Regions from separate parts of the Homo sapiens genome. Here region 2 is linked to region 1. The links come from fine-mapping of genetic effects on gene expression. Tissue or cell type: whole blood. Region 1 holds a variant in brackets; the other region holds the start of a gene. All regions are shown on one strand. Distances are between the middles of the regions.

Region 1 (8,000 bases):
GTCTCCACAAAAGACCCAGGAGGACAGGGTTTGGGGAACGTCCAGATAACTGAACACATGGGGCCGACAGGAAGGTGAACAGGAACTCCTCTATGTGCAGGGAGGGTGGAGCACCCCAACTCCACGGCGACGGAAGCTCCTGCTCTCGGGGCCCTTCCAGACCCCACCTTGTGCGTTTCTTCATCGGGCTGTCTTTCTATGCTTTTAAATATTCTTTGTGATAAATCGGTAAAAGTGTTTCCCTGAGTTCTGTGAGCCTCTCTAGCAAATTAATCAAGCCCAAAGAGGGCGGTGGTGGGAACCCCAATTTAATGCCATTTGGTGACACCTTCCAGAGGCCTGGACTCACGACTGGTGGGAAGTGTGGGGCAGTCTTGTGGGACTGAGCCCCCAGCCTGTGGATCTGGGGCTAACTGCAGGTAGACAGCCTCAGAAGCGAACTGAAAGGGAGAACACCCAGCCGGTGTCTGTGGCAAAGCTGAGGGCTTGCTCGGTGTGCGGGAGACACAGCTGACTGCCTGCTCCGTGTGCAGGAAAAACGGAGCTGGCCGCTTGCTGGGTGTGCGGGGAGAAACAGAACTCCTCTGTGTCTGTTGCAAAGCTGGCTGCTTGCTTGGTGTGCGGGAGAAACAGAAGTTCTCTGTGCTGATTATTACTGTGCAGTGAGACCAGAGGGAACACGGTTTGAGTTTTTCCACTTTCTCAATGCCACTGAACTGTTCAATTGAAAATGGTTAAGATGGTAAATTTTCCTTGTGTTTTTTTTTTTTTTTAATTTTCCTTGTTCTTGACAGCCAGTTTTGGGGGGAAAAAAAGATGGAGCCGGGTGCAGTGACTCGCGCCTGTAATCCCAGCACTTTGGGAGGTGGAGACTGGGAAGATCCCTTGAACCCAGGAGGTCGAGGCTGCAGTGAACCCCAATTGCCCCACTGCACTCCAGCCTGGGCAACAGAGCGAGACGCTGTCTCAAAAACAAAACACAACAGGCTGGGCGCGGTGGCTCCCGCCTGTAATCCCAGCACTTTGGGAGGCCGAGGCGGGCAGATCACAAGGTCAGGAGATCGAGACCATCCTGGCTAACACAGTAAAACCCCGTCTCTACTAAAAATACAAAAAAAAAAATCAGCCGGGCGTGGTGGCGGGCGCCTGCAGTCCCAGCTACTCGGGAGGCCGAGGCAGGAGAATGGCGTGAACCCGGGAGGCGGAGCTTGCAGTGAGCCGAGATCGCGCCACTGCACTCCAGCCTGGGCGACAGAGCGAGACTCCGCCTCAAAAACAAAACAAAACAAAACAAAACAAAACAAAACCAAAAACAATGATGGACCATTGAGCTGTGGAACATATCAGGAAACTTACCCAGGACGATGAGGTTGTGAGTGACTTATTTTGGGAACTTCCTGACAGTCGTTGCCTAGGACCTGTGAGCGGACAGCACAGCTGGGCTCAGTCTCCAGACTCACTCCAAACCCTTCTTATGTCCATCAGTCCCGAACCACTTCCGTCCCAAACATGCCCAATCCTAACGAAGCCTCCTGAAGACTCACCTGAAGCCACACCCCAAAACCTTCCACACGCCCACCCCGGCCCTGCTTTCCCCTCAGACCCCGTGAAGACCCTCAGGCGGGATTCCCGCTCCGGCAATGGCGCCCACTCAGACCCCGTGAAGACCCTCAGGCGGGATTCCCGCTCCGGCAATGGCGCCCACTCAGACCCCGCGAAGACCCTCAGGCGGGTTCCGGCTCCGGCAATGGCGCCCACTCAGATGCTGTGAAGACCCTCAGGCGGGGTTCCGGATCCGGCAATGGCGCCCACTCAGACCCCGTGAAGACCCTCAGGCGGGTTCCGGATCCGGCAATGGCGCCCACTCAGACCCCGCGAAGACCCTCAGGCGGGGTTCCGGATCCGGCAATGGCGCCCACTCAGACCCCGTGAAGACCCTCAGGCGGGTTCCGGATCCGGCAATGGCGCCCACTCAGACCCCGTGAAGACCCTCAGGAGGGGTTCCGGATCCGGCAATGGCGCCCACTCAGACCCCGTGAAGACCCTCAGGCGGGTTCCCGCTCCGGCAATGGCGCCCACTCAGACCCCGCGAAGACCCTCAGGCGGGGTTCCGGATCCGGCAATGGCGCCCACTCAGACCCCGTGAAGACCCTCAGGCGGGTTCCGGATCCGGCAATGGCGCCCACTCAGACCCCGTGAAGACCCTCAGGAGGGGTTCCGGATCCAGCAATGGCGCCCACTCAGACCCCGTGACGACCCTCAGGCGGGTTCCGGCTCCGGCAATGGCGCCCTCTCAGACCCCGTGAAGACCCTCAGGTGGGATTCCCGCTCCGGCAATGGCGCCCACTCAGACCCCGCGAAGACCCTCAGGCGGGTTCCGGCTCCGGCAATGGCGCCCACTCAGACCCCGTGAAGACCCTCAGGCGGGTTCCCGCTCCGGCAATGGCGCCCACTCAGACCCCGTGAAGACCCTCAGGCGGGGTTCCGGATCCGGCAATGGCGCCCACTCAGACCCCGCGAAGACCCTCAGGCGGGGTTCCGGATCCGGCAATGCCGCCCACTCAGACCCCGCGAAGACCCTCAGGCGGGTTCCGGATCCGGCAATGGCGCCCACTCAGACCCCGTGAAGACCCTCAGGCGGGGTTCCGGATCCGGCAATGGCGCCCACTCAGACCCCGTGAAGACCCTCAGGCGGGGTTCCGGATCCGGCAATGGCGCCCACTCAGACCCCGTGACGACCCTCAGGCGGGTTCCGGCTCCGGCAATGGCGCCCTCTCAGACCCCGTGAAGACCCTCAGGTGGGATTCCCGCTCCGGCAATGGCGCCCACTCAGACCCCGCGAAGACCCTCAGGCGGGTTCCGGCTCCGGCAATGGCGCCCACTCAGACCCCGTGAAGACCCTCAGGCGGGTTCCCGCTCCGGCAATGGCGCCCACTCAGACCCCGTGAAGACCCTCAGGCGGGGTTCCGGATCCGGCAATGGCGCCCACTCAGACCCCGCGAAGACCCTCAGGCGGGGTTCCGGATCCGGCAATGGCGCCCACTCAGACCCCGCGAAGACCCTCAGGCGGGTTCCGGATCCGGCAATGGCGCCCACTCAGACCCCGTGACGACCCTCAGGCGGGGTTCCGGATCCGGCAATGGCGCCCACTCAGACCCCGTGAAGACCCTCAGGCGGGTTCCGGCTCCGGCAATGGCGCCCACTCAGACCCCGTGAAGACCCTCAGGCGGGTTCCCGCTCCGGCAATGGCGCCCACTCAGACCCCGTGAAGACCCTCAGGCGGGTTCCGGCTCCGGCAATGGCGCCCACTCAGACCCCGTGAAGACCCTCAGGCGGGTTCCCGCTCCGGCAATGGCGCCCACTCGGCTGTGTCAACGACCCGTGGCTTCGTGGCTGTCCTGGGAGCCAGCGCTTTCACGCTTGCACACTTCTATAAATAGTTATACATTTTTTTGAGACAGGGTCTGGCTGGGTTGCCTAGGCTGTAGTGCAGTGGTGTGATCACAGCAACCTCCATCTCCTGCACTCAAGTGATCCTCCTGCCTCAGTCTCCCAAGTAGCTGAGACTACAGGCACGTGCTACCGTGCCCAGCTAATTTTTGTGTGTGTCTGTTTTTTTTTTTT[C/TC]TAGACAGAGTCTCGCTCTGTCACCAAGGCTGGAATGCAGTGCCGCAGTCTTGGCTCACTGCAACCTCCACACCTCGGGTTCAAGAGATTCTCCTGCCTCAGCTTCCCAGGTAGCTGGTATTGCAGGTGCCTGCCACCACTCCTGGATAATTTTTGTATTTTAGTAGAGACGGGTTTTCACCATGTTGCCCAGGCTGGTTTCAAACTCCTGAGCTCAAATAATGCATCTGCCTCAGCCTCCCAAAGTGCTAGGATTGCAGGTGTGAGCCACTGCACCTGGCCCAGTACATCTTTGTTAAACAAAAAATCTAGTGAGCAGAGTGGCACTGGTATCCACGTTTGCAAAATCTCCATCATGCCGGTTTCCTAGGCCCAGGGGTCCTCCTCCCGGGGCCTGCCTAGGCCTCTGGGAATCATTGTTCTAGGAGAAGTATGTGAGGAAAATCTGGCTTCATCCAGATTTGTAGTCGGAACAGGGAAGGGCACCCTGATAGCCTTTCTGGATCATTGTGGACCTTCTGTGACTGGCTCTTAGGCCCATGAGTGATGCTGGAATGTCCCGCCTTGGTCGTGGGGTTTCCCAGACCCCCAAGTGCTGACCCCTCCAATTTCAATAAGGAACATGCACGCTCCCTAACTGAGCCTATCAGAAGGAGCTTCAGGGCCAGGCACGGTGGTTCACGCCTGTAATCCCAGCACTTTGGGAGGCCGAGGCAGGCAGATCATGAGGTCCCAGCTACAAGGTCGGGCCACTGCACTCCAGCCTGGGTGACAGAGTGAGACTCGGTCTCAAAAAAAAAAAAAAAAAAGAGCTTCAGGTGGTGGAGCAGCCTTGCCTATGATGGCAGTTTCCAAAACTCAAATGTCCACTGGAAAATGCAGATTTATCACGGCAGCGAAGAGGGTCCGTTGTTTTCACTTTGTTCATTTTGGAGACAATGACTACCCACGTCTCGACACAAGAGGTTCTTTCAAGTAACCTGGGGAAGCTGGCCAGGTCAGTCACGGCTGGGACATGGCTCCCAGCTCTTCCCCGGGCAGCCCCAACACCTAGGCAGCAGGCGCCCGGGACGCCGGATGCTTACGCTTCCAGGTGAGACTGCATCAAATCAGTGACGTTTGCTGATTTGACTGTGTGTGTCGGGGAAGAATGGGGGCTGCTCATATTCGAGCAAAGGTGAGTGCGGTTGAGAAGGCAGGCTTCTGTGTTTCACGGGGCTGCCATGGCAAACGCCGCACACTGGGTGGTGTGAACAACAGACGCGTCTCCTCTCTTGGTTCTAGAGGCTGGAGTCTGAGATGCAGGCGTGGCCAGGGCTGGTTCCTTCGAGGCTGTGTGGAAATCTCTGCTCTGGGCCTCTCCAGGCTTCTGTGGGAGCTGCCGCTCCGTGTTGCTCCTTAGCATGTAGAAACCTCCCCCTCCTCCGGTGATCACCCCGATCGTGTCTGTGTCCACGTTTCCCCTTTTTATCTGTTGTTTTAATTTTTTTTTGCCCAGGCTGGAGTGCAGTGGTGGGATCTTGGCTCACTGCAACCTCCACCTCCCAGGTTCAAGCGATTCTCCTGTCTCAAGCCTCCTGAGTAGCTGGGATTACAGGTGCCCGCCACCACGCCCGGCTAATTTTTGTATTTTTAGTAGAGATGGGGTTTCACCATGTTGGCCAGGATGGTCTCGAACTCTTGACCTCAAGTGATCTGCCCGCCTTGGCCTCCCAAAGTGCTGGGATTACAGGTGTGAGCCACCTCACCCGGCCTCCCCTTTTGATATATTAGGGCTACCGTACTCCAGCATGGCCTCATCTTAATTACATCTGCAGTGACCCAAATAGGGCAACAGTCTGAGTTGCTGGGACAAGGACTGAAATATGAATTTCTGAAGGACATAATTCAACCCAGAGCACCTTTTTTTTTGAGACAGCGTCTTGCTCTGTCACCCAGGCTGGAGTTGCAGTGGCACCATCACAGCTCATTGCAGCCTTGAACTCCTGAGCTGAAACAATTCTCTCGAATCAGCCTCCTAAGTAGCTGGGACTACAGATGCACATCACCACACCTGGCTAATTTTTACATTTCTTTTTGAGACGGAGTCTTACTCTGTTGCCCAGGCTGGAGTGCAGTGGCGTGATCTCGGCTCACTGCAAGCTCTGCCTCCCGGGTTCACGCCATTCTCCTGCCTCAGCCTCCCGAGTAGCTGGGACTACAGGCGCCCGCCACCAGGCCAGGCTAATTTTTTGTATTTTTTGTAGAGATGGGGTTTCACTGTATTAGCCAGGATGGTCTCGATCTCCTGACCTTGTGGTCCGCCCGCCTCGGCCTCCCAAAGTGCTGGGATTACAGGTGTGAGCCACTGCGCCTCACCAATTTTTAAATTTTTAGTAGAGACAGGGTCTCGGTATGTTGCCCAGGCTAATCTCAAATTCCTGGGCTCAAACAATCTACCTGCTTTGGCCTCCCAAAGCACTGGGATTACAGGTGTGAGCCACGTGCCTGGCCTGCTTCTCAAGTCTTGCTATAAAAACAGTGTAGAGGGCCGGGCACGGTGGCTCACGCCTTTAATCCCAGCACTTTGGGAGGCCAAGGTGGGCGGATCACCTGAGGTCAGGAGTTCAAGATCAGCCTGACCAACATGGAGAAACCCCGTCTCTACTAAAAATACAAAACTAGCCAGGCGTGGTGGCAAGCGCCTGTAATCCCAGCTACTCGGGAGGCTGAGGCAGGAGAATCACTTGACCCAGGAGCCGGAGGTTGCGGTGAGCTGAGATCACGCCACTGCACTCCAGCCTGGGCAACAAGAGCAAAACTCTGTCTCAAAAAACAAGCAAACAAACAAACACCGTCTGGAGCTCACAATGCCCTGAAAGGGTCTTAGGTCTCCCAGAGACTGTCCTTGGTGTCTGCTCTGCTTGCCAGTCAGCATCCCCTCCAAGTGGCCGTCAGTGAATGCGAGTCTTTTAAAAAAATGTTTTCATTAAAAAAATTTTTTTTTGGCTGGGTGCAGTGGCTCACGCCTGTAATCCCAGCACTTTGGGAGGCCAAGGCAGGTTGATCACGAGGTCAGGAGATTGAGACCACTACATGGTGAAACCCCGTCTCTACTAAAAATACAAAAAATTATCCGGACGTGGTAGCACCCACCTGTAGTCTCAGCTACTTGGGAGGCTGAGGTAGGAGAATCAATTGAACCTGGGAGGCGGGGGTTGCAGTGAGCCGAGACTGCGCCACTGCACTCCAGCCTGGGTGACAGAGCAAAACTCTATCTAAAAAAAAAAAAAATTTTTTTTTGAGACAGGATCTCACTGTGTCGCCCAGGCTGGAATGCAGTGGTGCCATCTCAGCTCACTGCAACCTCTGCCTCCCAGGCTCGAGGGATCCTCCCCACTCAGCCTCCCGAGTAGCACAGGCAGTGAGACCACAGGCACTCACCAGCACGCCTGGCTAATTTAATAACTTTTTTTCTTTTCTTTTCTTTTTTTTGAGACAGAGTCTCTCTCTGTTGCCCAGGCTGGAGTGCAGTGGCATGATCTCTGCTCACGCAGTGGCGTGATCTCTGCTGACTGCAACCTCTGCCTCCCAGGTTCAAGCAATTCTCGTGCCTCAGCCTCCTCAGTAGCTGGGACTACAGGTGCCCGCCACCATGCCCAGCTAATTTTTTGTACTTTTAGTAGAGACGAGGTTTCGCCGTGTTAGCCAGGATAGTCTCAATCTCCTGACCTCGTGATCTGCCCACCTTGGCCTCCCAAAGTGCTGGGATAACAGGCATGAGCCACCGTGCCCGGCCTAATAATTTTTTTTTGTAGAGACAGGGTCTAGCCATTTGCCCAGGCTGGTCTCGAACCCCTGGGCTCAAGCTATCCTTTTGCCTTGGCCTCCCAAAGTGCTGGGATTACAGGTGTGAGCTACTGCGCCCGGCTGCAAGTCTTTAATTTTGCCAAAATCAAACTCATTGACTCCCTTTTTAAAATTTTCATTATTTTATTTTTGAAACAGAGTTTTGCTCTTTTGCTGGAGTGAAGTGGCATGATTTTGGTTCACTGCAACCTCTGCCCCCTGGGTTCAAGTGAGTCTCCTCCCTCAACCTCCCAAGTAGCTGGGATTACAGGCACGCGCCACCATGCCCGGCTAATTTTTGTATTTTTAGTAGAGATGGGGTTTCACCATGTTGGCCAGGCTAGTCTCGAACTCCTGACCTCAGGTGATCCACCTGCCTCGGCCTTCCAAAGTGCTGGGATTACAGGCGTGAGCTGCCGCGCCTGGTATCCACTGCTTTTGAAGTTTTGTACAGAAAATTCTTCTTCCCCTTTGTCACATGGATATCCTGGCATCTTCTGTGAACTTGGTCGTTTTGCCTCTCATGACGTCTAGTACTGCTGGGGCTG
Region 2 (8,000 bases), 29 kb after region 1:
CCCCGGACTGGCTCATGGTGTCTTGGGTGGCGGCCAGCGGGAGAAGGGCAGACCTCAGTGTGGCCCCGGTCTGAGGCCAGTGCCTGTCCCACACCTGGGTGGACAGAAGGGCTGCGCTGACACTTCCTCCGGCCTGGCTGGTTCCTCCCCTCCTTCCCTGGGCCAGATCCCTGACTGGCCTGGCCTGGGTGGGGGTCCCTTGGGGGGCAGAGCCCCTGCCCGACATCCCAGTTGGCCCCACGTCCCAGTTGGCCCCACGTCCCAGTTGACAGTCGATCAGCCTCGTCATGCCTCAGACCCTAGGTGCTCCACAGGGACCCCCCAGAGGCTGACTGGGAGGCTCTGACAAGGGCCCTGGGGGCAGAAGGCGCCTTCCAAGCTGGGCAGCATGGAGTTTAAGGCCCTGGTGCTGTGGGGAGGGGGGTGGGATGGGTAAGGGGAGGGGGATGAGGTGGGAGTGTGGGGGGAGGGGGGTGCGGTGGGGGTTGGGGGAGGGCGGGTGGGAGCTGCAGGATGGCAGGAGAGGTGAGGCTGGAGTTGGGGTAGGTCCTGAAGTCCAGAGGGAGCCCGGCTCTAGCCGCCACTCCTGCCCCACCCCAGGCCTGCACCCCAAGGGGCTCCTGCACCCACATGTGGACTTGCCACCCACACATGCCACCTCTGTCCAGGCCCCAGCAAAGAGGCTGGCCCTTGGCTCTTTCCTGGGCCTGGGAGACCTGGCAGGGAAGAGGCTGTGCGGGCAGGAAACCCTGGGGTCCCCGGGGTGCAGTGTTTCCTCACCTCGAGGGCAGGGATGCGGCCAGGTGGCCAGCGCAGAACCCCTGGCAGCAGCCAAGCCTAGGGGAGGGACTGGAGGGCAGGTGTGGTGGGGGCTGAGACTGGGAGCCAGTCCAGTGGCCCCAACACACAGTATCACTGCCCCTCCAACGAGGTAGGGTGGCTATGGGGCAGGTGCCTCTGGCCTCCCCCAGGGGCAGAATCCTCAGAGCCTGTCTCTGGGCTCCTAGTGCTGACCTCTTCCCCGAGCATTTTGGGGAAACTAAGGCCCAGCCGCCAGGGCAGACAGGTGGGTCTGATTTGGGCTGGACCCTAGGGGCTTCCCGGGGGGATGGACAGAGCCTGATGGCCCTGAACCAGGCTGACTTGTCCCAAGGGGACTATGCCCTGTGGGGACCTGGCTGTTCTGTGGCTCTGTGATCAGCTCCCCACAGGTCCACACCATCTGCCTCCTGCCAGGGCTGCAGGGCTGTCCCCTGTGGCTTCAGAGTTTGGGTCTGCCACGGTGGGGGTCACCAGCCACTGCTGTTGGTATGGAGGGTCAAGGGAGTGGCTCGGAGCACCCGGGACTTTCTGGTTTGACCAGGTCTGGCCTAGTGGGAGGGTCTGGGAGGCCCGGGGGCACTGCCGCTGACATGAGGGGCTGGGTGCACCAGGGGGTATGGCCACTTCCTCCATCCATCTATCCGTGGAGAATGTCTGGAATGTTCACGGGCTCAGTGGCGAGCCTGAGTGTTTGCTTAATGGGATTCCTGGCGGGCTCCACCAAGGGCGCCAGGCACGTGTGTCCAGGCACACACCTGGGCGAGACACCAACGCACCCTTGCAGACTCAGGCCTGGGGGCACGCAAACATGGAGGGCTGTGACACGCGACCCCCCTGGGGAAGGCCAGGTTCCTGGCCTTCGGTTGCCTGCAGGGCATCGGGGACCTCAGGCCCAGGCAGGGCCGGGCAGCAGTGGGGTGGGTCCAGGTGTGGTGTCTGGGTCTGAAGCACATGGGTATGGGGCTGCCTCCTGCCCTGTGGGAGCCCCGCCCCCCTGGGGAGGCTTCTTTGGCCCACTGGTGGTGGGGACGAAGCCCTGGAGGCCCAGGCTGCACTTTGTACTGTGGTCATTTTCCCGGTGTGAAGTGAGGCAGAGCGGGGTGCCCGGTCAGTCGGGCTGTGGAGGGGAGGAGGTCCCAGCAGGGCAGGAGGGTAGAGGGACGGGCTCCAAGTTCAAGTTCCAGCTCCACATGCTGAGTGACCTTGGGGAGGGGTCAGCTGAGTCACAGGGGCTCCAGGCTGCCCTCATAGGCGCTGGGTGGGGCCCTGGAATGGGGAGGCCCCTCAGGCCCTGGCCCTGTCCTTGTTTGGAAGCTATGGCTTGAGGGAGGAAGGGATAAGCTGGGGAAGCTGAGGGTGGGAAAGGAGACCGAGGCAGGCGGAGAAGGCCCGGTGGGAGAGCTATGCCAACAAGGCCTGGGTGCTAAGCAGGCCCGGGAGAGGCTGGGACCCAGGAGGGGCCGCGAGGGGAGGAGGGGCCGCGAGGGGAGGGGCCGCCGCCAGCTGGGCCTGCCTCCCAGCACAGCCGACCCAGGACTGAGCACGGGGTGGGTGGGGGCAGAGGTCCGGGCATGCCCGGCCCTGCCTCCCCCTCCCCTGCCACCAGGGACACCCCGCAGCAAGGGGCAACGCCAGGCAGCTGGACGCAGGGACCAGGAATCTAGGATGGCTGAAGTTCGCGTGCCCACAGGCTCCTGCCAGCCCACCCTCCTGCCTCTCCTGGCAGGGCCTCTGCAGCCCCTGTCCCAGCCTCCCCTCCTCCCTGAAACTCCCACCCCCAACCCTGACCTGGAGACTGACCCAGCTGGTGCTTCCCGGCCACTGGTTTCCTTCTGGGCTCCGACACCCAGGAAGTGCCTCCTGGCTCCGGCCCACAGGGAGTGGGTGTGCAGTGCTACCTCCACGGTCAGGCCCTCGGGAGGGTCCTGCTGCTCACAGAACCGGGAGAAGCCTCCCTACCACCAGCGCTCTCCGGACGCAGGGATTGCCCCCACCAAGCCCCAGAGCTGGGAGTGGGCAGGACGGGGCAGGTGAGTCACCCATCGCTGGCTTAAAAATATCCTTGCTCGCCGGCCGCCGCCCAGGACCGACGGGGGCAGGCCGGGCTGCAGCAGGACCCGTCCAGGAGAGGTGGGGACTCGACCAGGCCCCCAGCCCCTTGCCCCGCGCCCTCGGCCCGGCCGCCCTCCAAGTGCCCCGCGCCCTGCGACGCCGCGTTCGTCCCGGTGTCCTGAACCAGAAGCCCCGCGTCCCATCGCCACCGGGTAAACTGAGGCCCGGGCGGGCGCGCTCCCCCGTGTCCGCAGCGCTCACCTGCCTCCGGCGCCCCGCGCTCGGCCTGTCCCCTCGGCGCTCGCCGGTGCGTCCGTCTGTTCGCGCCTCGGCCGGGGCGCCAGGTCTCCCGCGGGCGGGTGGGACGCTCGGCGGGGCCGGGCCGGGGCGGGGCCGGGAGAGGAGGAACCTGAGCGACAGGTTGCGGAGTCACCCGAGAGCGGGCGGGCGCGCGGGGGAGGAGGGCGTGGGATGGAGGCGCCCCCGCCGGCCTCGGACCCAGCTCCGCCCCGCCCCCTGCCCCGCCTGGGCTCCAGCCCCAGCCCTCTGCGTCCTCCCCAACACCCGCCTGGTGTGCCCCTCCGCGGGCCTAGCCCCTAGAGCTGGGGCGCTGGGGACAGGCGGGGCGCAGGGCCGCCTCCGCGGGATGAGCAGGGCGAGGCCTCGAGCTCTTCCTTGGGCAGGGCCTAGCTGCGCCCCAGCAGGCCGGGGGACGGGGGAACGCTGCCAATGGGACTTCGGGGGCAGCGCTGGCGCATTGCTGGGGAGGGCTCCAGCCCTGGGGAGGTCAGAGCCTCCGCCGGGCCAGGTGCACCCCTCAGGTGCCCCAGGCATGGGGCAGAGTCACTTCCCTTACCGGGCCCACCGCAGGCCCAGGGGCAGAGGCTTCGGTGAGTGGGTGGGTGTCAGGCAGGACCCAGCCATGCCCACCCCAGGCCTGGAGCCCTGAGTTCACAGTGCAGCTGCTCCTCCAGGCCCCCCTTTCTGCCCAGCCTGGGCACTGAGGGATGGGGTGTCAGGGGAGGTGGGGACACCTCAGGCCCTCTCAGGATGCCTCTCTCCTTGCACTGCCCCGTGGTCAGGCCCAGGCCCCACCTCTGCCCACCACAGTGGGACTGTCTGGTTCCGTCCTCATCTGCCCGGCTTCCAGGATGGCCCTTCTCCCCAGCTGCTGTGACCGCTCAGAACAGGGCCAGGGTGCAGTGGACACAGCGGGTAGCACCGGCTGCCACAGCAGTCAACTGGACGAGGACGAGGTGAAGGGGCACAGGGCGCCCCAGGCCCATGCAGGGACCCAAGGCTCCGGCTGCCGGTCCTGGGTAGGGGTGGGAATGAGCGTGGCCAAGAGTCTGGGTCCCCGGGCTATGGTCCCAGAGGGGCAGGGCTAGCGTGTTTACCCTGGGCTGGCCGGAGCACTTCCTGGGGAGGCGCCATAGGTGAGCTCGGTGGAGGGCTGGCAGGAAGTGGCCCTCCTCCTTCGGGCCCAGTGCCTGCCCCTGAGCCCAGGCAAGACCTGGCTTCCTGGTTTACAGCCTTTGCCGTTTGATCTCCAGGAACCTGCCGTGATCCTGCTCCATGCATGAGCTTGCCCTGACCCAGAGCTCAGGGTCACACACGCCAACCCCTCGGTGCACCCGTGCCCTCACCCTTCCTGGAGGCAGAGCTGGGAGTGGCCAAGTGGGAAACAGGCGCTGGAGAGGACAGCTGGGGGGTGGGGTCCCTCTCCACTCCTAAACGGGTGCCTGTCAACACGATTTTGAGTGCGGAGCCTGCCCTCAGGAGACAGTCCAGGCTGGCCTCTCGGGCCCCATCCACTCCGGGTCACCTGGAGCCATGGCGTTCCCTGTGGAACAGGTGACCACTGCCTTTGTGTGCTCGCTGAGACTGGAGGTATCAGGATCCATTAACCATGAAGGCAACAGGTCTCCAGCTTCAGGGAGGGGGTCCTTCCCTGGTCTGCATGGTTTGTGGGCTGGGTCCTCCAGATGGCAGGTGTGCCCAGCTGGTCTTCTGCGAGTGCAGGCGCTGGTGAGGGAGGTGGCCCGAGGCGCTCAGGCGCTGGTGTGTGAAGTGGGTCCTCAGGGCTGTCCTGCAGCTCACCGTGGCCACTGGGGGCCACAGACAGGTCAAAGGAAGTCGGCCCAGGACAACTGGGTGCTCCCACCGCTTCCACGAAGACAGGCAGGAAAGACTGTCCAGGTGCCACAGCCACAGCCACCCCAGCCGAGGGAGCCCCAGTGGAGGCCCAGGACAGTCCCGCAGCCTCCTGCCCTCAGGAGTCCACCGAGCGGAAGGCGCCCGGCAGCCAGGGCCCGAGGGCGAGGCCAGCCAGGAACTGACCAGCTGGCAAGTGGGGTGTGCTCTCTTGCAGGGCAGGAGAACTGGAGATGGGGTGGGGGAGGTGGCCATAATTAGGAGAATTCAGGGAGGCATACACATCTCTTTATTTACAAAATGCGGTGAAGAGAAAATATCTAGATATTTGGGTGTAATTATTCCAAACATAGAAAACACACAATAGAATCAAGTGAAGGGAAAGCTACTGTAACAGCTTAGATACTTTTTAAGGAGAACTGATAGTAAATCTGGGAATGGGAAAAAAACACAGAGCTAGAATTTGTTTAGCACTCCGTGCAAAAGGCAAAAGCTGATAAAACTGGAGTGGACGGAGGCTCCGAATGTGGCCCTCCGCTGCTCTCTCTCCTGCAGTCTCATCCCCGGCCTTAGCCCTGACCTCTCCTCCGAAGCCCCTGAAGGGAGAAGTGTGGCTAAGATGGAAATTGCTAGGCAGCAGAGCTGTTGGCTTGTTTGCATTTATTGCTTTAGGAACCCAGAGTCCACTCTTGCACCGGGCCTGCCTGCCTGTGAGGCAGAGCTGGGGTTGCTCAGAGCACAAGGCCTACCCCATCCTGCGTCTCCAGCCCGACTTGGAAACACAGGTGGGGCCTGGCCACGGAGTAAACTGGGATCTCAGAACACAAATTAGGACCATTGGGGAACTAGGGGGTGATGGGGGATGCAGTGAGATGAGGCCTCTGTTCTGAAGGGCTCTGTCCTCCCTCTCGGCCCTGGGGGCCCATGGGGGTCTGTGGAGGCCTGGCTGCTAAAGCCAGACCCCACTGACAGGGCTGAGTGTGCGCTCCTGGGACTCATCTTGAAGGCAGTTCTGTCTGGTCCCTACCCTCCCCGCAGCTGTTCCCAACACCAGGGCCTCCAGCAGTTTGTTCTGCCCTGGCTCCTGCTCCCACTCCTGCCAGAACAGATGGAACCATCCAAAACCATCTATGGCCAGTCACTAGGAAAAGTGCCCTTCCTGTCCAGGAATGGGGAGGTGACAGCTGGGGGACTGGTCAGGCCCAGGAGGAGGGCCCCAGTGTGGGGTATCCCGGGTGTCCGTAGCTACCTGGTGAAGGCCGCGATGGCAACCACCTGCAGGACGGCCTCCAGGCCGTGAAGGGCCAGGAGCGTGGCGCTGAGGGCCCAGTCCGCCCACAACACTAGGGCCTGCCAAAGCAGGAAGTGGGCAGAGAGGAGGGCGGTGCCAGCCGTGAGGGCCAGGCTGGCGGCCAGCGGCCTCTCAGCCTCTGTCAGGTTGCCCCTGGTGCCTGGAGAACAGAGCAAAGGGGAGGGAAGGTGGTGCGAGGCGCTCCCTGGAGCCCACCGCCCACAGGTGCCTGGAGGGCTGCTGGGACCAGAGCAGCTCCTTGCCCTACGTTCCTCCGGGGCCTGGGGAATTCCAGGGAAACAGCCTCCATGGCCACCCAGAACTCAGGAGAGCCAGAGAGCATGGGCAACACAGGCGTGAGCCCCTCCTGGGGGAGGTGCCCCTGCAACAGCATGGTTTGATCTGTCTCTGGGTCTTCTGGGTCGGCTGTGTGGGCGGGGGTGAATTTGGTTTCTAAAATGATTCAAGTGCATCTGCCACGTTTTCCTAATTCCAAGTGGAACTGAAGGGATTTTTTTGAAAAATTCCCAAAGTATTTTTCTCTGGTCCAAGGCCAGTTCTGGAAAATTTCACGAGTATGTATTAAAAACAAAACTGCGTATTTAGCAAACAAATGGGTCAGTCACTAGCTGAGCCCAGGTGCCTGGAGACCCTGCAGTGTGCGGCGCGCTTGGGGAGGGTCCCGTTGGCCTAGCAGCCCCCAGCAGGGCCAGGCCACACCCTGTCCCCACCACCTCAGGGCAGGCCCAGGCCCCAGAAGATCAGCCAAGAACCGGGCCTCTGTGCCGCAGCGGTGCTCGCACCCTCCCAGCAGTGCCCGCCCTGGGGGGCAAGCTCTAGAGGTTCTGGGACGTAAGTGCAGACAAGACACTGACGGCCGGGCACCCCTCAGTGGGATGGGCAGCTGAGAGAACTCGCCTCCATCCTCCTAGTGTGTCTGAGGCCTGATAACAAGAGGAAGGGTGGGGGCCACCCTTCCCCGCAGCCTTGGTTCCTCACTGGACATCAGGCATCAGGGGTGTATCTGTATGTGAACAAGAGGGGCCCAAGATTCCAGCCTGGCAGGGGCACAGCGCCCTGGAAGTGCCCATTGCGTTCCCCACGGCAGGACAATGTTTCACAAACACGTGTGTTTAGGTGCACATGTTACGACCATGAGCACGCAGAGGGCTGGAAGTCTGCACCCCGCTGGCCACAGAGGTGAGCTCTGGGGAGGGCGAATTTCCATGTTTTACTTCTGCACCCCTTGAATCTTGTACAAGAACATACCCTTGAACAAATTGTGTGGTTAAAAAAAGGGGAGTGAGGCCAGGCACTTTGGGAGGCCAAGGTGGGCAGATTGCTTGAGCCCAAGAGTTCAAGACCAACCAGGGTAACATAGCGAAACCCTGTCTCCGGCCGGGCGCGGTGGCTCACGCCTGTAATCCCAGCACTTTGGGAGGCCGAGGTGGGCGGATCAGGAGGTCAGGAGATGGAAACCATCCTGGCTAACATGGTGAAACCCCATCTCTACTAAAAATACAAAAATGAGCCGGGCGTGGTGGCGGGCACCTGTAGTCCCAGTTACTCGGGAGGCTGAGACAGGAGACTGGCGTGAACCCGGGAGGCGGAGCTTGCAGTGAGCCAAGTTCACGCCACTGCACTCCAGCCTGGGCGACAGAGCGAGACTCTGTCTCAAAAA

The links. PIP is the estimated chance that this variant, and not a neighbour inherited with it, causes the effect.
Region 2: EPS8L2 starts here. The variant in region 1 is fine-mapped to the expression of EPS8L2 in whole blood (INTERVAL, PIP above 0.99).

Annotation. Positions count from the first base shown.
Region 1 is chr11:730,094-738,093 of GRCh38, reverse strand. It overlaps LOC105376509 (a long non-coding RNA gene), which reads right to left and starts at 1,570. Exons shown (of 3, transcript XR_930962.3): 1 at 1,357-1,570. RefSeq lists enhancers at 2,441-2,941, 2,942-3,442. The variant C/TC (reference allele first, on the strand shown) is at 3,625.
Region 2 is chr11:701,424-709,423 of GRCh38, reverse strand. EPS8L2 (EPS8 signaling adaptor L2) reads right to left here and starts at 3,193. Exons shown (of 21, transcript NM_022772.4): 1 at 3,136-3,193; 2 at 1-94. The coding sequence starts at 16. TMEM80 (transmembrane protein 80) reads right to left here. Exons shown (of 5, transcript NM_001042463.3): 5 at 5,295-6,479. The coding sequence ends at 6,274. It also overlaps a transcript of DEAF1 not described here. RefSeq lists enhancers at 643-1,570, 1,571-2,497, 4,353-5,280 and a silencer at 3,247-3,376.